2 separate regions of the Homo sapiens genome follow, and region 2 is linked to region 1. Evidence: fine-mapped expression QTL. A gene starts in region 1. The other region holds a variant in brackets. All regions are shown on one strand. Distances are between the middles of the regions.

The links.
Region 2: its variant is fine-mapped to the expression of AIFM1 in monocytes (TOPMed, PIP 0.98).

The regions. Positions count from the first base shown.
Region 1 is chrX:130,158,439-130,170,450 of GRCh38, reverse strand. AIFM1 (apoptosis inducing factor mitochondria associated 1) reads left to right here and starts at 4,610. Exons shown (of 16, transcript NM_004208.4): 1 at 4,610-4,900. The coding sequence starts at 4,795. It also overlaps a transcript of RAB33A not described here. RefSeq lists an enhancer at 4,622-4,961.
Region 2 is chrX:129,858,709-129,870,720 of GRCh38, reverse strand. No RefSeq gene overlaps it. Among named protein-coding and RNA genes, the nearest start is that of ZDHHC9, 21 kb to the right of the region's middle. The variant A/T (reference allele first, on the strand shown) is at 6,780.

The sequences.
Region 1 (12,012 bases):
AGCTAAGGTAACACTGACACATGTCACTAGCACTGACTCGTGAGTTATTGCTAATGCCATCAAGGTCAGGGATTCAAACAGCACAGTTGAGCTGCCATCTTATTTGGGAGGTTGAGCTGCAGGAAGAGACAAACATGACCAAATCCATTTCTGCTGAGAGAAAAACAATTCAGTGCATCAGTGATATACCTGAAAGCAAATTGGAATGTGACTACTCAAGGACGTCCAAGTTACTCAGAATGGCATCTTCCAGTTAATAAGTTTATTAGCTGAGCTAGCAGATATATTTACAGCTAACCCTTTTATCATATATGTGGGTCGCCCATTTCTAAAACCCTACATTATACTACTCAGCATTAAAACTACCCAGATAAGGATTTCCTCTTAGTTGGCTAATCCAAAATCATCCTTATGAATACCAATTTTCATTGTATTATGTATCAATCATCATTGTACAGTATTTTTGGTTTTGATTAGTCTGATGCCTAGTTTGCTGGATCGTTCCCCTCTGTATTGGAAGTTAATGCCCCTGATGATCTTTATCTACAGAATAGCTTTAAGGTGGAGAGGGGTAACTATTAATTAGGTACATCCTGTACACAAAGTAGAAAGGGGCTTTGCCCTTTGCCAATTCACAGCTAGAATTAATGCTAACTTCCTGAGAGATATTAAAAAAACATATGTACATAATAAGATTATTTCAATGTAAGCTTCTAGCAAAAACTTGTCACTGAGTCTACTTTTGTAAGGAAGAAACTTTGATTTCTGAAAATATGATATCTCAAAATGGGCTTCTTGCCCTAATAAAAGGTGTCTGTTACTTCTGTGGGGTGAGACTTTGGGGGATTTCCACTTATATTTTTTGGAATTAATTCAATGAGTATATATTGCTTTTGAAAAAAGATAAAAATATAATTTTTAATTAAAAGGACAGGAAAACTACCTTATTGTACCTATTGTAAAAAAATTAAATGTACTGTACAATGCCCTTTGTGTTAATTGTGCATTATTAAATTACTTTCAAATACATGCAGTTGTTTTCATAGGTACCTGATTATCATGATTTTGACAGTGTTTTCCAGTCTCTTTTGCCATCAGATATAATTAACTTTGTATTTAATCAATCCATGATTATTGGTTTTTACAAATATCAATAAAAATCAATGCAAGGCTGTTAAAATGTTAAGTAAATATAAATAATTTTTACCTTACTTTGGAATTGATACTTTTTTTTTTTTTTTTTGAGATGGAGTCTCGCTCTGTCACCCGGGCTGGAGTGCAGTGACACAATCTCGGCTCACTGCAAGCTCCGCCTCCCAGGTTCACGCCATTCTCCTGCCTCAGCCTCCCAAGTAGCTGGGACTACAGGCGCCCGCCACCACGCCTGGCTAATTTTTTTGTATTTTTAGTAGAGACGGGGTTTCACTGTGTTAGCCAGGCTGGTCTCGATCTCCGGACCTCGTGATCCGCCCGCCTTGGCCTCCCAAAGTGCTGAGATTACAGGCATGAGCCACCGTGCCCGGCCTGGAATTGATACTTTCAATATTTATCCCCTGGCCTAAAGTGATCCACCCTCCTCGGCCTCCCAAAGTGCTGGGATTACAGGCATGAGCCACAGAGCCTGACCATATTTTCAATATTTATCCAAAGGAGCTCTAGATAAAATGTCACCCATTGCCTGCACTTCTGAACACTGATCTACTCTGCTTAATGGGTAAGGGAGCCCTGGATCATCTTCACCACATAATGACTACTTCCTAGGCCTGGCACAGTGGCTCACACGTGTAATCCCAACACTTTGAGAGGCTGAGGCAGCAGGATTGCTTGAGCCCAGGAGTTCAAGACCAGCCTGGGCAACGTAATGAGACTGTCTCTTAAAGAAAACCAAAAAACAAAACTACTTCCTGGGTTAAACTTCACAGAAGGGTGTCTTTGTAGGCCGGGCGAGGTGGCTCATGCCTGTAATCCAAGCACTTTGGGAGGCCGAGGCGGGCGATCACCTGAGATCAGGAGTTCAAGACCAGCCTGGACAACATTGTGGAACCCCGTCTCTACTAAAAATAGAAAAATTAGCAGGGCGCGGTGGCATCTGCCTGTAATCCCAGCTACTCGGGAGGCTGAGGCAGGAGAATTGCTTGAACCTGGGAGGCAGAAGTTGCAGTGAGCCGAGATACTGCCACTGCACTCCAGCCTGGGTGACAAAGGGAGACTCCGTCTCAAGAAAAAAAAAAAAAAAAAAAGAGTATCTTTGTAATTTCTTTCTTTTTCTTTTTTGAAATAGGGTCTCGCTCTGTCATCCAGGCTGGAGTGCACGGGAGCAATCACTGCTCACTGCAGTCTCGATCTCCTAGGCTCAAGTGATCCTCCCATCTCAGCCTCCTGAGTAGCTGGAACCACAGGCACATACCACCACGCCTGGCTAATTTAAAAAAAAAATGGTAGAGATGATGTCTCATTATGTGCTCAGGCTGGTCTGGAACTCCTGGCCTCAAGCAATCTTCCCACTCGTCCTCCCAAAGTACTGGCATTACAGGCATGAGCCACTGCACCCGGCCCTGTAATTTCATTCTCTATCCCCATTCCACCAAAAAAAAAAAAAAAGTAACTTCATTACCTCCAAAGTTAGGGCCCAACTCTTGCCAGTTCAAATCTGGCCCCCCACCATACTTGCCTGTCTTTATCACTACTTCTTTATTTTTTTCTTTTTGGAGACAGAGTCTTGCTCCATCATCCAGGCTGGAGTGCAGTGGCACAATCTTGGCTCACTGCAGCCTCCACCTGGCAGGTTCAAGCGAGTCTCCTGCCTCAGTCTCCCTAGTAGCTGGGATTACAGGCGCATGCCATGGCGCCCGGCTAATTTTTGGATTTTTTGTAGAGACGGGGTTTCACCATGTTGGCCAGACTGGTCTTAAACTCCTGACCTAAAGTGATTCACCCGCCTAGGCCTCCCAAAGTGCTGGGATTACAGGCATGAGCCACGGAGCCTGACCACATCAATACTTCTTAGTATGTACTCTCTATCATTGTCCCCCGAAAATGTGCTGGGTTTTGGTTTTTTAAAACAGTTCCAAGCCTTTTCATTTAACAAACAGCATGGTGCTTCCTCTAAGACACTTTACAAATATTAGCTCATTTAGTCTTCCGAACACCCTCCTGAGATTTGTAGATGAGGAAAATGAGGCACAATTAAGTGACTTGCCCAGGTGGCAGAGCCAGGATTCAATGTGGGTTGGTCTGGATCCAAGGTCAACATGTTTAACAATGAAAAATGTTATCTTTGGTCCGAAAGTATTCACCATCTGAAATATCAATCCTTTTCCTCTACTGTTTGAATTTTACTACTCATCCTTCAAGACACAACTCAAATAACTTCTTACACGAAGTTCTACCATAGTGATTCCATCCCATAGTCTTCTCTCTTGCTCTGTCCGGCACTACACCAGATATTATTTCAATGACCGGTATATGTCATCTCCCCAACTAGACAGTGGCCACTTCCTATATAGATGCTATGTCCAAATAAACCCATTGTAAACTGAAAATATCGTTAAGTCGAAACTGCATTTAATACCCTGATAAACCCATCATAAAGTCAAAAAACCGTAAGTTGAACCATGCTTAAGTCCAGATGCTCCTCGACTGACATGGGGTTAGGTCTCATTAAACCCATCATAAAGTCGAAAAATTGTAAGTCGAACCATTGTGAGGGGTAAGTCGGGGACCATCCGTACTTTTCATACCCAACAGAGCCCCTTTTATAGTACAATCCAAGAGGTAAGTGCTCAATAAATACTTGTTAAATGAATATGTAAGCTGAATCTTTGAAACAGGCACATTGTATGTTCTGCATGCAGCCAAAACATTATTTCCAATTTAGCTTATATCTGGCAGAGTCAAAACACTTATTTACACTCAGCCCCTCACCCTACTCCCATAACTGAAAGTTCTGCTTAGCAGACTTCTCTTCCCAGAAAGTCCGAGAAGCACGAACGCTTTTTGCTAACATCCTGCTCCCAAGCACAGAAACCACAGCAGGAGACTGTGTGTATCTGTAGCACCTGGTATACAGCATCTAGGACACACAACTGAACTAATAAATAAAGGTGACAGGCGGGAAGAAGAGCGCAGAATTACTTGTCCAGGAAACGGGTTGGGTGGGAAAGAGCCGGCAACTGGTAAAAGATGGAAGTACACGCCGGATCTGGGAAGCCAGGTTCCGCGCCTCGGACTCATGGAAAAACTGGATCTGGATCACTGCAAAAGAATCAGGAAGGCTTCGGTATCAAGTAACTGGTGTCCTAAAACCAAAAAACAAAGTGCGATGCCGGGGCTACGCTGTTGTGAGATGCTGTTATCAGTTCTCGTCACCAACACAGCGGCAGCACCAGGCACAACCGCCAATCAAAGCGGCCCCACGAGTCCCTCCTTGAACAGGTTCCTTAACTCGTTCAGTCCAACACTGTGCCACAAACTCGCGAAAACCGGCTACCTAGAGCCAGCGTCTTTGCGAGCTTGCGGCCAGCTAGTGCATGCGCAAATCCTCTCGCCGTGCGGACCAATCGCAATGCGGCAGCGAGTGCTACGCCTGCGCAGTAGGCCTCCGGTCGCCGTTCCCCTTCCCCGGCTCTAGCAGGCCGGCTTCTCTGTCCAATGCCCACCCGGAGCTGGGAGGAGGAGTCTGCGTAATGTGCGTGTGAAGAGACTGGGGGAGCTGGCCGGGGCTCACGGTGTTTGACCCGTCGGTCGTGCGTGAGAGGAAAGGGAAGGAGGAGGTCCCGAATAGCGGTCGCCGAAATGTTCCGGTGTGGAGGCCTGGCGGCGGGTGCTTTGAAGCAGAAGCTGGTGCCCTTGGTGCGGACCGTGTGCGTCCGAAGCCCGAGGCAGAGGAACCGGCTCCCAGGTGACTGACCCATTCCAGGCAACCTCCAAGTCCGAGGGCCTGGCGCCTTAGGCTCCCTGTGCCTTGCAGCCCTCTACCCCCGCGTCCCCGCGAGAAACTTAACACATAGTCACGTGAATTCCAAATTGGCAGACTCCGAACCCTGAGTCTTGCAAGCGGAGGAATTGGCTCAGCCATGCCGACCTGACCTTCAAGAGATTTGAACCCAGTAGTCGGCTTGAGGCCTTTTCCCGGGAGCGTTTGCTGTTCAGGGATCCCAGAACAACTGGCTGTCGGCGCCTCCCCGGCATCCCCACCCCCCACCCCCCTTTTTAGAGCAATGAGGTCAAGTAGACTTTGTCATTTACCGATTGAGACTTTAAACAGGACGTTTAAGCCCTACGCCTAAGTTTCTTGTGTAAATGAGGGTGTTATCTGCTCAGCCTTCCAAACCACAGATGAGATCCATGGATTTGAATGCCCAGTGAAACAGAAACGGTGCAGGGCAAGTAAGGAGTCGGTTGGTTGTGTACCAGACACCCAGAGAATTGGCCCAGACTTAATTGGAGATGCCTGAGCCGTGTACTTCTTGGTGGTCTTTAAGGCTTCAAAGAAACAGTTTGCAGAACGCATTGTATTTTGTTCTCCATTAAGTTGTTTCATCAAATTTTAGAGCTGGAAGGGATTTTGTGGTAAAGGTCAACCCACTCATTTTATAGATAATAAACTGAGGCACAGAGAGGTGAAATTACTTGCCAAAGGTCACATAGTTAATTAATAGGTAGAGCTAAGGATAGTTTGCTAGCCTCCAGGTCCTTAATCCCTTCGCTGCAACTCCATACTGCTTCCTAAAGTTGACCTCAAAAAGTTAAGAATGAATTCGGGTCTCTTCCCAGTAATTAGCCCATTGTACATCAGATATCCGTGAATTTATCTGAGCATGGCTTGAGCCTGCTTCTTTTCGTACTGCGTTACTTCATGGGGGCAATGAATGATCCACCTGTAGGAGTTGCTTTGAAAAAAAAATCAGTAATCCTTCAATGTCCACCCCTAGGGCATTTGCAATGTCAGAAGTTATCCTTGAGGCTTTTACAATACAGAAACACCTGGGTGCTTTAAAAATAAAAAGTGGAAAATATTTTCCTTGGGTTGTTAGGGTCTTTGCAAATGTGCATTTGAACAGTTTTTCCAGTTGCTATGCACAATGAAAATGTTTCCTGATAGGTGTATTTGAGTTATGTCCTGGGACATACTGCTCTTGGAACTTAAAACCTCTGCTTAGCTTTTAAACTAATGCCTTATCAATGGATGTCATCTTTGAGGGTTTTGTGTATTGAAATGATGGTGCTCTGTGCTTGTTGCACAGAAATTGAGATAACCTGAATTTTTTTTTTTTTTTTTTTTGAGACGGAGTCTCGCTTTGTCGCCCAGGCTGGAGTGCAGTGGCGCGATCTCGGCTCACTGCAATCTCCGCCTCCCGGATTCACGCCATTCTTCTGCCTCAGCCTCCAGAGTAGCTGGGACTACAGGCACCCGCCACCACGCCCGGCTAATTTTTTTTTTTTTTTTTTTGTATTTTTAGTAGAGACAAGGTTTCACCATGTTAACCAGGATGGTCTCGATCTCCTGACCTCGTGATCCGCCCACCTCGGCCTCCCAAAGCGCTGGGATTACAGGCGTGAGCCACCGCGCCCGGCGATAACCTGAATTTTTTCATCCACACTGGCCTTTCAAACTTTGAGTAGTTGTTTTGCTTAAGTCTCACAACTTTTACCAGCATTCTAAAGTCTGACCAAAAGTTCTCATCAATTAAATATGCATTTGCAAAGTTAAGTTGATTTATTAGACATTGGAAAGTGGTTGGTGTTGTTAGAACTACTGAAAAATACAGACTCAAATGGTTTTTTCCACTGCATGTCTTTGTTTGAAGGCAGTCTACTGTAGAATATATTCGGACTTCCTGACATATCCATCCATCTCTTTGCATACACTTGTTCTTTGTCCTTTGGCCGTGCACCAAAGTATGACATCATCTGCCTTTAAAAATGGGTGAGGGTAGTGTTAAATTTTCAAAAAGAAGTTCTGATACTCTCATTTTAGGAATTAACTCTGTTTTGTGGCTTGATTCCTAACTGCTTTTAATCTGATTTCTTTTTCATGTAGTAGCATCTACCGTGTGTTTTTGCACAGGTGGGAAAGAGCAAGGTTCGTTTATACACCATTTCTCCCTCCACCTTACCTTTAAACTTTTTTTTTTTTTTTTTTTTGAGGCGGAGTCTCGCTCAGTTTCCCAGAGTGCAGTGGCACGATCTTGGCTCACTGCAACCTCTGCCTGCTGGGTTCAAGCAATTCTCCTGCGTCAGCCTCCCAAGTAGCTGGGACTACAGGCATGCACCACCACGCCGGGCTAATTTTTTGTATTTTTAGTAGAGACGGGGTTTCACCATGCTGGCCAGGCTGGTCTCAAACTCCTGACCTTGTGATCCACCTGCTTCAGCCTCCCAAACCTTTAAACTTTAAACCTGCCTTGCAACTATCTCGTTGACATCTGTCACCATTGTCAGGTTCATTTCCATTATATGTTGCATTCTGCCTTAAAACCATGATAGCTACTATTTGTTTATTTACTTTATTTATTTGGATGCTCTGCCTCCTTCCAGAGATGATTGAAGGTAACTCATAGTCATCACTCTATGTCTGCATTCAGACACAGAGGAGCAGATAGGTTAGATAATAGACATTTTCTGTTCTATAATATTTTGTTTGGTCACCAAACAGTGCTGCCCATGTTATCAAACTGATCACCGACTCCCTGACTTTAGGTTCAAATGTTTGAACGTTTTTCTCTATTTGGAATCCTTCTCACCTCTTTAAAAAGGAAACTGAGCTCCTTGTGGGCAAGGATCCTGGCTTCCTGGACACTGCCAAATGTGACTTCGTTTTGAAGCCTAAAAGATGAGTCTTCCCCCGTTGTTTCTGCTGAGACAAGGCTTTGCAGAAGAAATTCTTTGGCAGCTCAGCCCTTTCTGTAACCAGTTAATAAGTTACATTTTCTAGAAATGTTCTAACTTTTTGAGGGAGTTACTGCATGTCTTAGCTTTCTTCTAGATCATGTTTCCAAAAGTTGCCTGCTCATGTGAATCGAGTAGAGAACCAGTTCCTAACCTTCTCCAGGAGATAATTCTGGGAATCTGTATTTTAACAAGCCCCTTGACATTCATATGATCAGACAAGTTTGGTATATACTGTTTTGGATGAGTAGTGACTCTTCCCCTTCTGTTTTGCTGACGTAAGGATTAAAAAACCAAACTGAGCAATCTGGAGTCTCTTGTGATTTGTATCAAGCTCATTTTCTCATATTCAGAATAGTAGCAGCCATTCTCCTAAATTAAACACTACCTGAGGACATGGATTATGTCCTATTTATTTTTGTGTCCTTAGCATCTTGTACCATCTCTGGCACATGGTAAATTCTCGTGACTGAACCCTAGTACAGCATTGTGAAGGACTTAACTTTGCAGAAGAGAGATTTTATTTTGTTATCTAAATAATTTTTCCTTGTGTGTCTTTCATCAGAATGGTTCACGCTGTACTATAGTTATTACTACTCTGTTTCTTCTAAAATTCCAGCAAGGGTTGATATTAAAAAATTAAAAAAGGCTGATAGCTAGGCGTGGTGGCTCACGCCTGTAATCCCAGCACTTTGGTATGCCAAGGTGGGCAGATCACTTGAGGTTGGAAGTTCAAGACCAGCCTGACCAACATGGAGAAACCCCGTCTCTACTAAAAATCAAAAATTAGCCAAGCGTGGTGGCACATGCCTGTAATCCCTGCTACTCGGGAGGCTGAGGCAGGAGAATTGCTTGAACCCGGGAAGTGGAGGTTGCGGTGAACCGAGATCACACCACTGCACTCCAGCCTGGACGACAGAGCGAGAATCTGTCTCAAAAAAAAAAAAAAAAGGCTGATAAATAGTTGTTGGATCCCTTGTAAAGAATCATTTATCTACAATGGACAGACTATCTAGGCTTGTCCTGTGTTTTTTTTTTTTTTTTTTTCTTCAAACAGAGTCTTGCTCTGTTGCCCAGGCTGGAGTGCAGTGACACAATCTCAGCTCACTGCAACCTCTGTCTCCTGGGTTCAAGTGATTCTCCTGCCTCAGCCTCCCGAGTAGCTGGGATTACAGGCACCTGCCACCACGCCCAGCTAATTTTTGTATTTTTAGTGGAGACGGGGTTTCACTGTATTGGCCAGGCTGGTCTCGAACTCCTGACCTCGTGATCCGCCCACCTCGGCCTCCCAAAGTGCTGGGATTACAAGTGTGAGCCACCGCACCTGGCTGTCCTGTGTTTTCTCCATGCTGGAAAAATCAGTTTGACCCTCAGGAAACAAGTCTCAAGAACGTATAGATCTCTTAACCATTTAGGATCCCTGGGTGCCTCAATTGTGAAGTTGTGTTTTTGGAAAACGCCTTTTGGGAGTATGGAAAAACAGGAAATCACAAAACCTACAGAAATGAACTTGCTAGTTTAGCTACTATTCTAATGCTGGTCTATGGTGTTTGAGGTTACTCATTTATGATTAAGCAACCTAAAATAAATGGAATCTGGCTAAAGCTTTTTTTAAAAAAAACTCTTAAGTTTATTTTTTCATTTTATTTATTTATTTATTTATTTATTTATTTATTTTTAAGTAGAGACGGGGTTTCACCATGTTGGCCAGGCTGGTCTCAAACTCGTGGTCTCAAGTGATCCACCAACCTCGGCCTCCCAAGGTGCTGGGATTACAGATGTGAGCCACCGCGCCTGCCCTGGCTAAAATTTCTTTGCAAAGAATTATTTAAAATGTTCAGTTATCCGGGCACGATGGTGCATGCCTGTAGTCCCAGCTATTCTGGAGGCTAAGGTGGAAGGATCACTTGAGCCCAGGAGTTTGAGTCTAGTCTGGGCAACATACTGATACCTTTTCATTTAAAAAAAATTTTAATAGTAATAAGAATGTTCAGTCAATATCAATAGAATTAGGAAGAATTTCTATTTCCTTCCTTCATTAATTCAACAAATATTTATTGAGCAAACATCTGTGTGTCGTCTGGCGCTGTTGCACAGGTCAAACTGGCTTCTTAAGAATGAAATCCTAAGTGTGAGGAAGAAATTGCATTGTATGTGTGGTCTGACTGCAGAAAACCTAAAATAAGTAAACTGCTGCCATGATGAAAAGTCAAGGAGTAAGTTGGCTTTTCCATGTTAGTAAGACAAGTGAAAAGGCATGTTTCAGTCACGATGTAATATTTCCTAAAATTTTGAAGCTATGGGGAGAAAGGTTTGGGAGGAATTTCATAGGGAAAAGAAAATGTGGGGAGGGGGAATGTAAGCAAACAATACTTAGTACATTTTACAAAATTAAAGTCACTTTGTAGGTATATAAAAAGTTTTAAAAGTTGGTTTATTAATGAGAGTAGTGTATTACATTTCTTTTCAAGCAGTAGTTTAAATATTAACCAGTTTACTTTTTTTTAAAGTCAATTTACTTTTCCAGCCTGGACAACATGGTGAAACCTCGTATCTACAAAAAATAGAAAAATTAGCTGGGCGTTGGTGGCTCACGCCTGTAGTCCCAGCTACACAGGAGGCTGAGGCTGGTGAATGGCTTGAGCCCAGGAAGCATAGGTTGCAGTGAGCCGAGATTGTGCCACTGCACTCCAGCTTGGGGACAGAGTGAGACCCTGTCTCAAAAAAAAAAAGTCCATTTACTTTTAAATGCTTTTTTCTTTTTTTTTTGGCAAATTGAGACAAAAGCTGCTGAACTTTCCTAAATCTACACTGTTAGTATTATCAGTTTGTGAAAAGCAAGCAGAAGGAGAATAAACATGAGTATGATATTAAAACAAATTTGTTATAATGTCTGTATTTAGGGTCTTCTGGAGGAATAAACAGAATTAAAAAAAAGAAAAACAAAAACAAAAAAAATTTATTTTTAGTAAATGAACCAGGGGTAGAGGTGGAGGACAAACTAAATTCATTGAACTAAATCACATGGAACTTTTCCTAACCAGTTTCATTTTCTAAGCTCTGAGAGTTACCACTTTCTACTTCTGATGGTTCATTATTTTTGTAAGCTTCTGAAAATCAAAAGCTTGCCCAGATTGAGATAAGTTTCTGCCCCGCTCACGTTTTTATTTTCATGATTTGTCATTATTTCCAAATCTCAACCATTTTATTTCATGTGGTGATGAAGAGTTCTAAAAGCAGGTAAGAAGAACAGTAAAGAAAAATACATTTCCTTTTCTAAGAGTGTAGATCTAAAGTCTCTTATCTGTAATTCAGAAATTGAAATTGTAGAATGACCAAAATTTAAGACTATCAAGTTTTCATAACTCATTTGCCAGTAAAACCTGACCTGAACTGGAGAGAGGCTACTTTATAATCTTTTTAAAATATCACTTAGCGTGATTGGTCATATTAATATGTTTAACTATGAATTGCTGCCCTTTACCTTGCTAGGTGTCACTATGTGGTATATGCCCCATATACTTAAGACCAGATAATTCAAAGTTCCAAATTATACATGGTCCCCAGGATTTCAGATGAGAGACCACAGATCCACATTGGGCTTGTTTTTACCCGTCTGTGGCCTAACGTTATGAAAGCAAGGGGGAAATTCCTTCTCTAATCTCTGCAAGTATACATGGGATGCTACTACCAGTGTCCATTCTGTTTGTCTTTTAAAGCCTAGACAGGACAGGGACATAAGTATCAGCCTCTAGACTAAGCTTGTCCAACCTGCAGCCCAACACAAATTTGTAAACTTTCTTAAAACATTATGAGATTTTTTTGCGATTTTTTTTTTTTTTTTTTTTTTTTTTTTAGCTCATCAGCTATGGTTAGTGTTAGTGTATTTTATATGTGGCCCAGGACAATTCTTCTTCTTCCCATGTGGCTCGGGGAAGCCAAAAGATAGGATATACCTGCTCTAGACAGATGGTTCTCAATGTGTGGTCCCCACCCTAACAGCAGCAGCAGCAACAGCAGCATCCCCTGGGAACTTGTTAGAAATGCACATTCTTGAGCCCCATCCCAGATCTATTGAATCAGAACCTCTGGGCCTGGGGCCTGGCCAGCTTTGTTTTATAA
Region 2 (12,012 bases), 300 kb after region 1:
TCTCAAAAAAAATTCCTCGTCTCTGATAGCATTAATAGATAATGTCAAAAAAGAAATATAAGCCAGGTGCAGTGGCTTATGTATGTAATTCCAGCACTTTGGGGGGCCAAGGTGGGAAGATCGCTTGAGCCCAGAAGTTCAAGACCACCCTGGGCAACACGGGAGATCCCATCTCTATGAAAATTAAAAAATTAGTCGGGTGTGGTGGCAGTGGAGTGCACATGTATTCCTAGCTACTAGGGAAACTGAGGTGTGAGGATAGCTTGAGTCCGGGAGGTTGAGGCTGCAGTGAACTGTGATTGCGCCACTGCACTCCGGCATGGGTGACAGAAATATACAGGCAGGGACAAATATTTTTATTTATGTATTTATTTATTTATTTATTGAGATGGAGTCTTGCCCTGGAGGGTGATGGCGAGATCTCGGCTCACTGCAACCTCTGTCTTCCAGGTTCAAGCGATTCTCCTGCCTCAGCCTCCCATGTAGCTGGGATTACAGGTGCATGCCACAACGCCCAGCTAATTTTTTTTGTATCTTTAGTAGAGACGGGGTTTCACTATGTTGGCCGGGCTGGTCTCAAACTCCTGACCTGGTGATCCACCTGCCCCGGCCTCCCAAAGTTCTGGGATTACAGGCATGAGCCACGACGCCCAGCCAAGGCAGGGACAAATTTGAGGAATTTTTTAGAAGGTAAAATTTGCAGGACTTGGCTGGGCACAATGGCTCACACCTGTAATCCCAGCACTTGGGAGGCCAAGGTGGGTGGGTCACCTGAGGTCAGTAGTTCAAGACCAGCCTAGCCAACATGGTGAAACCCCATCTCTACAAAACTACAAAAATTAGCCAGGCATGATGGTGGGTGCCTGTACTTCCAGCTACTTGGGAGGCTGAGGCAGGAGAATCTCTTGAATCCAGGAGGCGGAGGTTGCAGTGAGCCGAAATTGCACCATTGCACTCCAGCCTGGGTAACAGAGCGAGACTCCATCTCAAAAAAGAAAAAAAAAATTGTAGGACTTAGTGATTAACCTAATACAGTGAATAAGGAAGAGGGAGGAGGCAAAGGTGATTTGAAGGGTTCTAGATTGAGTGATTGGGTGGATGTGATGTCACGACTGGAGTAAAGAATATGGGGTACTATCTAGTTCAAGTGGGGAGCTGATGTGGTGGTTAATTTTATGTGTCAACTTGAGTGGAGCAAAGGGTGTCCAGATATTTGGCCAAACATTATTCTGGGGGTGTCTGTGAGGGTGGTTCTAGATGAGATTAACACATTGATAGACCGAGTAAAACTGATTGCCTTCCTCAGTGTGGGTGAGTCTCTTCCAGTCTGTTGGAGGCCTTTATAGAACAAAAGGCAGGGTAAGGGAGAATTCATTTTCTCTGCCTGACTGTTTCTGAGCTGGGACATTGGTCTTCTCTTGCAGGTGAACTGGAACTTACACCTTGCTTCTCCTGTTCTCAGGAGACTTGGACTGGAACTATACCACCAGCTGTCTCGGATCTCCGGCTTGCAGACGGCACATCATGGGACTTCTCAGTCTCCATCACTGCATGAGCCAATTCCTTATAATAAATCTCTGTCTCTCTCATTATACATATCTTGGAGAACCCTCAGGAACCTTGACTAATACACAAGATAAATTCAGTTTTAATTGTATGTGAGGCATTGTGGTGGAGATATATACTAGATACCCACACGCAAGTGGGCAAAGGTCTGGGATCAAAATATCTATTTGGGAATCTTCAGCATATGGGTGATAGTTGAAATCATAAAAGTGGTTGAACTCTTCTGGGACTCTCATATATTGTAATAGGATGAACGGCAGAAAGAACAGATACAGATACATGTAGGTTGGTTAATCTGATGGTTGGAATGTGGACTTCGTATTCGATGTACTTGGTGTGTGTGTCTTTGTTTATAATGAAGTCAATTACTCAGTAATGTGCATATAATAAATTCCGTAGTGTGTGTGGTTCAGTCACTCTACTAGTTTTTAAAACTGTTCCGCTAAAGCTCTCAGTTGAAAGAACCCATGGTGGTGTTGTTATACATAAATATCTTTACTTGATAGACCTCATTGACTACAGTCAGGATTCTGGTAGATAAATTGGGCAGATGAGATGACCTCCCAACCCTTCTCTGGTGCTTTCTGAATAAGGCCTGTGTTTGTCTGGCTGTACCATACATTTTATTTTCTCTTTCATTCATTTCTAAGCCTCAGCAACAACCCCCTTCTCCAACACCTTGATATAAATTGCCTTCAAACTCTAATAGAACTTGAGAATGTTGATAACCTCAAACTATGGTATCCTGATGTTTCCATAGTAACTAATGCACACCAAGGGGGAAAAGATGCGAGAATAAATGAGAATAGCATTTTAACAAAATAAGTGAGGGGCAAAGAGGCTTTAGACATGTTATTACCTCTTGTTTAGGAATATGAAAATATTCATCTCCTTAATAATGGGGTTATAAAAGTTGCTACAATGAGACTTGTCAGTAGCCATTTATATTTCATTTTTCTCTATAATCATCATCATCAAAAGCATTTAAATGCTTCTCTGCCCAACAATACTGTAGAGAGTGAGTTAAATGGACATAGTTGCCATTTTCCTGTGAACCTGCAATCACAATAGGACAGGGTAGGCCAATGTCTGTATTCCAGTCTCCCCAGCAGAGTTTTGACCTAGTGGATATTAGGAGGAATGGGGATTCAAAGAAGACAAATCAGTGTTGTGGCATTTGTTTGCTTTGATACAAGACTTTACTAGCATCTCAGCACTTCCTTGGTTAAAGGGTGGGAGAATAGGGTGCTGCTGTTTCTTCTTTCCTATTTCATAAAAAGGAGGCTTTCTGTAAGCCAGGAAGAGAGCACTCTCAAGTAATCAAATTGGCTGGCACCTTGATCTGGGACTTCCAGTCTCCAGAACTCTGAGAAAATACATTTGCGTTGTTTAAGCCAGTGAGTCTGTGGTATTTTGTTATGGCAGCCTGAGCAGCCTATACACCGGTCAGTGTACATGCACAACCGATTAAGCTATTGTTAGATAGGAATAGATTTAGTAAGGGTGAAGAGAAGACTTTTTATTTTATGTATTTGTTTGAGACAGAGTCTCTCTGTCATCCAGGATGGAGTGCAGTGGTGTGATCATGGCTCACATCAGCCTTGACCTTCCAGGCTCAAGTGATCCTCCCACCTCAGTCTCCTGAGTAGCTGGGACCACAGGCATGTGCCACCATGCCTGGCAAATTTTTGTATTCTTTGTAGAGATGGGGTTTCACCATGTTGCCCAGGCTGGTCTTGAACTCCCTCTTGCCTTGACCTCCTAAAGTGTTGGGATTATAGGTGTGAGCCACCATGCCCGGCCTAATATTTTTATTTTAGAATTAGAGAGATTAGGCCAGGCACAGTGGCTCACGCCTGTAATCCCAGTACTTTGAGAGGCCGAGGTGGGTGGATCACTTGAGGTCAGGAGTTCGAGACCAGCCTGACCAACATGGTGAAACCCTGTCTCTACTAAAAATACAAAAATTAGCCAGGTGTGGTGGTACGTGCCTGTAATCCCAGCTACTCAGGAGGCTGAGGCAGAAGAATTGCTTGAACCCGGGAGGTGGAGGTTGCAGTGAGCCGAGATCACGCTATTGCATTCCAGCCTGGATGACAGAGTGAGACTCTGTCTCAAAAAAAAAAAAAAAAAATTAGAGAGATTAAATTTCCACAGATAAGTGTAATAACTGGTGGGGTATCTATCTAACCCAGAACAGAAACACAGAAAGTAGAGGGACAGAAAGTATACTGAACAGCTCCAGGTAAGGTAGATAGCATGGCTGGGATTCCGCTTAACCTGATACTTTCCCCATTTAGAAGAGAAAGGTTAAAAAGCACATTCTTCTTCTTTGTCTTCTTTTTTTTTTCATACTCATATCACCTTTTGAAAATTAGTCTTCAGTTTAGCTTTTGTGCAATGAATTCAGAGGTTAGAAGCAAGATGTTTTGGGAGGTAGGGTGAGGCTCATCAGTGAGAATGAAAGCCAATTTCCTAGACTTGCCTGGGGAAGGTATATTAGAACGGGGGCCATTTGTTCTCAATGTTCAACTCCCACTTATGAGTGAGAACATGCAGTGTTTGGTTTTCTTTTCCTGTGTTAGTTTGCTGAAGATGATGGCTTCCAGCTTCATTCATATCCCAGCCAAGGACATGATCTCATTCCTTTTTATGGCTGCGTAGTATTCCATGGTGTATATGTACCACATTTTCTTTATCCAGTCTATAATTGATGGGCATTTGGGTTGGTTCCACAAACCTGCACGTTCTGCACATGTATCCCATTTTTTTTTAGAAGAAATAAAGAAAAAAGAAAAGAAAAGAAAAAAAAGAATGGGGACCATTTATCTTGGATGGCCAGAGGTTTGGTAGACATCCTCAAGTTTAGACAGGCCTTAGAGTTCAGATGAAAAAGGAGTGTATCTTCATATTAGAGGCTCAGTTTGGACAAGGGAAATTTCAGTGTGTGTGTGTGTGTGTGTGTGTGTGTTTAAAATTTGTGAAATTTGATCTTACAGTCACTGGGAGAAGGCAGAAATTTTGAGGAAAAGGAGTCCTCAATAAAGCATTCTTTTACCCTAAGGTATTTGGTCTCTTGTCATTATTACATCCAAATTAAAACAAGACAAGGAACTATGTATTCCTTGATAAAATGGTCTTCACTTGTAATCTGTATTAGAGTACTTAAAACTCCTGATCAATCAATTATATATCGTACATTGAAATGTACTTAAAATTTTGTCACTGCAACTTTTTCACACCTCCAATTATCCTTATTTATTTATTTTTTGAGACAGAATCTCCCTCTGTTTCCTGGGTGGGAGTACAGTGGTGTGATTATAGCTGACTGCAGCCTTGACCTCCTGGGCTCAAACGATCCTCCCAGGCTCAAGCAATCCTCCCAGTTCAGCCTCCCAAGTAGCTGAGACTACAGGTGTGCACCACCATGCCCAGCTAATTTTTTGACTTTTTTGTAGAGATAGGGATCTCGCCACATTGCCCAGACTGATACCGAACTCCTTGGCTCAAGTGATCCACTTGCCTTGGCCTTCCAAACTGCTGGGATTACAGTTGTGAAACACCACACCTGACCTAATTTCTTTTTAGTTTTTTCACTGTGTGGGATTCAGAGTCTAATAGATTGCTGAAATACATATTTAATACCTCAGTTTTAAATATAAGAAATATGATAATATTATATCCAATTGTAGCTGTGCAGAGGTTTGGCTTAAGATCCAAATACTATAGCTCAGCCGGGCACAGTGGCTCACGCCTGTAATCCCAGCACTTTGGGAGGCCAAGATGAGCGGATCACCTGAGGTCAGGAGTTCAAGACCAGCTTGGCCAACATGGTGAAATCCCATCTCTACTAAAAATACAAAAATTAGCTGGGTGTGTTGAGACTTGCCTGTAATCCCAGCTACTTGGGAGGCTGAGGCAGGAGAATTGCTTGAATCCAGCAGGCAGAGGTTGCAGTGAGCTGAGATCGTGCCACTGCACCCCAGCCTGGGCAACAAGAGCAAGACTCTGTCTCAAAAAAACAAGTATAGTTTTGTACAATATACTGATATAAAAATTAATATTTTTGTATAGCTAATATAGGCACATGGAGCAAAGTTCCAAAGTTATCAAAGGGCATACACTGAAAATTAGGTCTCTCTTTCTCCCTTATCTCCAAGTTCTCCAGTTCCTTCCCCTGAAGGTAACCACTATTACAAGTTTCTTACGTTTCCTTTTACAAATATTCCACAGTGCATTGATTCTGGAACAAGACATTTCCCCCTCCTTAGCAAGCTCTCAGTATCTGGCAGCAAAAAATGTTGCTCTTCAAGGTGAAAAACTAATGTTCCGAGTAGTAGCATGGAACAGTGACCACTCTTGTTCCTTCTCAAACTCCTCCTTAGAAACCATATTCCCAGACCGGATCAGCAGACATTTGTCTAAACTACTTCTAGCTGGACATAACATGAACACAGACACCTTTATCATGAGTGTACAAGAACCCAAACACCTAACACATCCAGAAGTTTAATATTTATTTAGTGCATATGTGTAAAAAAGTAGGTGCTTTTGGTAGGTTGTTGAGCAAGGAGGGGGTTGTGGTTTTATGCAAGATGGAATCAGGGAGAAATTATTCACTCTTTTCCAAGAAGTTGGAGAGGATTTCATCAAAGAGGTGCTGTGTAAATGACAGAAAGGAGATGCAGAGAAGGTATTACAGCATGAGTTGTGGTCTGGGAGAAATGTTGGAATTGGGGTTTGGGATAAAAGAAAGACGGTAGTGTTGAGTGTTGACTCGTGAAGAGCAAGGGGAGGCATTAGATTGACAGGAGGAGGCAGTGAAGGGAGAGTGAGGTAATATGGGATTTGCATTTGTAGATAATGAAGGCTTATATAGGACCTGTGGACAGAAGTCAGTAAAGAACTCTGTATTTACTATGCTTCCTATATTCCTAGCACTGCTGTTGGAACTATCACTTGGTCTAGAATTTTTCTCTGAGGCACTAAAGAATGGATTGTGGGTCTGGGCGCGGTGGCTCACGCCTATAATCCCAGCACTTTGGGAGGTCGAGGTGGGTGGATCACTTGAGGCCAGGAGTTCGAGACCAGCCTGGCCAACATGGTGAAACCCTGTCTCTACTAAAAATACAAAAATTAGCCAGGCATGGTGGCATGTGCCTGTAATTCCAGCTACTCGGGAGGCTGAGGCAGGAGAATCACTTGAACCCGGG[A/T]GGTGGAGGTAGCAGTGAGCCGAGATCTTGCCATTGCACTCCAGCCTGGGTGACAGAGTAAGACTCTGTCTCAAAAAAAAAAAAAAAAAATGGATTGTGGGATAGTATGGTGGGTTTCCTACATCATGTTCTTCTCACAGGTTGACTCTATTTACTAAACAGTCATAACGCTCCGTAATAACTTGTTATGCATCTATGATCCACACATTTATTTAAAGCAGGGTTCCTTAGCCTTGCCCCTATTGGCATTCTGGTTTGAATAACTCCTTGTTGCGGCAAGCTGTCCTGTGCATTATAAGATGCTTAGCAGCATCTTTGATGCCAGTAACACTCTCCCAAAAATGTCTTTAGACATTGGCAAATATCCCTTCGGAAGGGGGCAAAATCACCCTCATGGGGAACCACTAATATAAAACCTCACAAACCTATGTTTTGTTCTGGAAATTGTAAATTCCCCCCACATTTTTTTTTTTTTTTTTTTTTTTGGAGACGGAATTTTGCTCTTGCCCAGCTATTTTTGTATTTTCAGTAGAGATGGGGTTTCTCCATGTTGGTCAGGCTGGTCTCGAACTCCCGACCTCAGGTGATCCGCCTGCCTCGGCCTCCCAAAAAACTCCTTTAAAAAATTAACATCTAAACTGGATGTGGTGGTGCTCATCTGTAGTCCCAGGTACTCCAGAGGCTGGGGTGGGAGGATCTCGAGCCCAGGAATTAAAGGCTGTAGTGCGCCATGATTGAGCCTGTGAATAGTCACTGCACTCCAGCCTGGGGAACACAGCAAGACCCTGTCTCAAAAAATTAACATTTAAAAATCTTTATCAAAATAATGCATTGGGCTGGGTAAGGTGGCTCCCGCCTATAATTCTAGCACTTTGGGAGGCTGAGGAGGGTGGATTGCTTGAGCCCAGGAGTTCAATACCAGCTTGGGCAACATAGCAAGACCCCCATCTCTACAAAAAATTTTTAAAAAATTAGCTGGGCATGGTGGCATGCATCTGTAGTCCCAGTTACTCAGGAAGCTGAGGTGGGACGATGGCTTGAACCTGGGAGGTTGAGGTTGCAGTGAGCCATGATTGCACCATTGCACTCCAGCCTGGGTGACACAGCAAGACCCATCTTGAAAATAATAATAATAATAATCATGATAATAATGCATTTATGTAAATAAAAATCACTCATAATAGAAAGCAACTATCTCCTGCCTTGCCCCTGCCTACCTGTAGTCCCATTCCCTAAGAACTGCCACTTAACTGTTTCTGGTTTGGGTTTTTCTAATGATTTCTGCCATATACATTCACCTGTTTATCCATTTACTTAAACAATATATTAGTTGAGCACTGTGTTTGTTTGCTCGGGCTGCCATCACAAAATACCACTGGGTGGCTTAAACAATAGAAATTAATTTTCTCACCATTCTGGAGGCTGCAAGTTCAAGATCAAGGTGCTGGCAGGGCTGGTTTCCTTTGAGGGCCACCAGGGAAGGATCTGTTCCAGGCCTCTCTCCTTGGCTTGCAGATGGTTGCTGTCTTGCTGCCTCCGAACCTGGTTGTCCCTCTATGCATGTGTGTCCCTGGTGTCTCTTCCTCTTCTAAGGACACTAGTCATATTGGAGCAGGGCCATACCCCAATGGCCTCAGTTTAATTTAATCACCTTAGTGAAGACCTTATCTCCAAACATAGTTTCATACTGAGGTACTGGCATTTCAGTACATGAATTTTGGGGGACACTATTCAACCCATAGCAAGTACCTACTGTGTGCCAGTCACTGTTCTAAACACTGGGCATGGAACAGCCAACAAAACGGATGAAAATCTCTGCTCTTGGCTGGCGTGGTGGCTCAAGCCTGTAATCCCAGCACTTTGGGAGGCCGAGGCAGGTGGATCACCTGAGGTCGGGAGTTTGAGACCAGCCTGGCCAACGTGGCGAAACCCCATCTCTACTAAAAGTACAAAAAATAGCCGGGCATGGTGGCAGGTGCCTGTAATCCCAGTTACTTGGGAGGCTGAGGCAGGAGAATCGCTTGAACCTGGGAGGTGGAAGTTGCAGTGAGCCAAGATTGCAGCACTGCAATCCAGCCTGGGTGACAGAGTGAGACTCTGTCTCAAAAACAAAAACAAATAGAGTAGCCAGGGAAAACCTCTCTGAGAAGTCGACATTTGAGTAAGGACCTGAAGAAGGTGATAGAGAAAGTCATGCAAATGTCTGGGGAAGGATAATTCTAGGCAGAAAGAACAGCTGGTGCCAAGGTCCTGAGGTGGGAACATGTCCAGTTTGTTCAAGGAACAGCAAGGAGGCTCCTGGGGCTGGTGTGAAATGAGCAAGGGGGAGTAGCAGGAGCTGCAGGGGTCGGGGGATGGTGAGGCAGATGATGGCATAAGGCCTAGTAAACCATTGTTATGGCTTTGGCTTTTGTTCTGAGTGAGATAGCAAGCCATTGGACAAGTCATGGGTGGAGGTAGGTTTCAAAAGAATCTCTCTAGCTGCTCTGTGAATAACAGACTAAAAGGGGGTTAGGGAGGAAGCAGGGAGACCAGTAAGGGGAATGTTGCAATAATCCATTTTTTCTGAATCCTTCCTTGGTTTACCAGCTCTAGACATCCTCTATTGAGCTGCTCTGATAGGTGGGGATTTAGCTCACTTCTGCTGCAGCACTGCCTTTTTCTTCCTGCTAATACATCACTAGTTTTAGTTTCTCTGTTTAGGTCCTTTCCCCAGAGGCAATCATTCTAATGGTATCTTTTTGTTTGCATGCCTTTTTGGTTATCTTTGTGCCTTTTTTTTTTTTTGAGACAAAGTCTTGCTCTGTTGCCCAGGCTGGAGTGCAGTTATGTGATCATAGCTCACTGCAGCCTCGACTTCCTGGGCTCAAGTGATCCTCCCATCTCAGCCTTCTGAGTAGCTGGGGTGACAGACTTGCATCACCATGCCCAGCTAATTTTTTGATTTTTTTTAGAGACAAGTGTCGCCATGTTGCCCAGGCTAGTCTTGAACTCCTGGGCTCCAGCAATCCACCACCTCAGGCTCCAAAAGCCCTGTGATTACAGGCATGAGCCACTGTGCCTGGTCTCTTTGTGCCTTTATATAAGGTACATAAACCTCTATTTCTTGTTCATCTATAGATAATATCTCTTAATTGTACACTTTCTAAAATTAGAGTATTAGTGCCGCTACACATCCTTCCACCTCCCCTCATTCTATTTTCCAACTTCTGTAAGCTATGCTTTTATATTAAGTTTTTAACATTTCCTTTATACTTTGTAATCATAGTTAAATTTCCTGTGATTTGTCTCTAGGTTAGATTCCAAAAGTTGAAAACCAATAAAGATAGTATTTACATTGTTATAATTATATAAATATTTTTCAGTGTAAAGCCAAGGGATGTGCCTTGATTGCATTTTCTTCTTTATAGTTCCAATGTCACAACCTCCATCAATAACTCTATATCATTCCATATTCTAGCTGCCTTTATTATTAGAAAATGGCATTCTTGATTGCCTTTTTTTGTAGTTAAGCTAGATATATGCCTTCTTTACCATATCTCTGCTATCTTCCAGCTTCTTCCTTATTTTGTCTATTGCTTAGAATAAAGTCCATTCTTCTTAAAGCCCACTTCCTGTGTTAGTTCTTTTGTTGTCGTTGTCGTTGTTGTTGTTGTTGTTTTTCTTTTTCTTTTTTTTTTTTTTTATGAAGATGGAATCTTGCTCTGTCGCCCAAGCTGGAGTGCATGATCTGGGCCCATTGCAGCCTCCGCCTCCTGTGTTCAAGTGATTCTCCTGCCTCAGCCTCCCGAGTAGCTGGGATTACAGGCATGCACAACCACGCCTGGCTAATTTTTGTATTTCTAGTAGAGGCGGGGTTTCACCATGTTGGCCAGGGTGGTCCCAAACTCTTGTCAAGAGGTGATCTGCTCACCTCGGCCTCCCAAAGTACTGGGATTACAGGTGCAAGCCACTGCACCTGGCCTAAAAGTTGTATTTTATTAATATAAATGTTTAGACTTAATATTTAGGGGACACTTGCCTGTCGGCACATAGATAGTTAATTATTGAGAAAATATATATATATTTTTAACAAGAGTGTTCTTTATTTGTACAAAGCATCTTTGTGAATAAAGAATCTTCTCAGCATTCTTTATTCACAAACTTTTCACTATATTTATTTAACAAGTTAACAGTGTCAAACTACATGTTACTACCTGTCAAGCCCCAAGCGTTCAACTTAGAGACAAACAAAAAGTGCTTGGAGCACTGAATGGAAACAGAAAAAGGCTAAGAAAGGCCAACAGAGATATTTTAGAAGCAGTCAAAGAGGATGGTTTGGGGAGAGTTAGATTCCTGAGCAACATCAGATTTCCCTTAAGGTTCAGAGGGCCTTCACAAAATAATTTTTAGTAGACATGAGACAAAATTAGCTGGGCTTGGTGGCATGCATCTGTAGTCCCAGATACTCGGGAGGCTCAGGCAGGAGGATGACTTGAGCCCAGGAGTTCAAGCAGGCAGTGAGCTATGATCATGCCACTGTACTCCACCCTGGGCCAGAGTGAGAGAGAGACCCTATCTCTTAAAAAAATAAATAAATATGGCGGAGGGGCGCCAGCCATTGCTGAGGCTTGAGTAGGTAAACAAAGCTGCCGGGAAGCTCGAACTGGGTGGAGCCCACCGCAGCTCAAGGAGGCCTGCCTGCTTCTGTAGACTCCACCTCTGGGGGCAGGGCATAGCTGAACAAAAGGCAGCAGAAACTTCTGCAGACTTAAATGTCCCTGTCTGACAGCTTTGAAGAGAGTAGTGGTTCTCCCAGCATGGAGTTTAAGATCTGAGAACAGACAGACTGCCTCCTCAAGTGGGTCCCTGACCCCCGAGTAGCCTAACTGGGAGGCACCTCCCAATAGGGGCCTACAGACATCTCACACGGCCGGGTGCCCCTCTGAGACGAAGCTTCCAGAGGAATGATCAGGCAGCAACATTTGCTATTCTGCAATATTTGCTGTTCTGCAGCCTCCACTGGTGATACCCAGGCAAACAGGGTCTGGAGTGGACCTCCAGCAAACTCCAACAGACCTGCAGCTAAGGGTCCTGACTGTTAGAAGGAAAACTAACTAACAGAAAGGACAACCACACCAAAACCCCATCTGTACGTCACCATCATCAAAGACCAAAGGTAGATAAACCACAAAGATGGGGGGAATCCAGAGCAGAAAAGCTGAAAATTCTAAAAATCAGAGTGCCTCTTCTC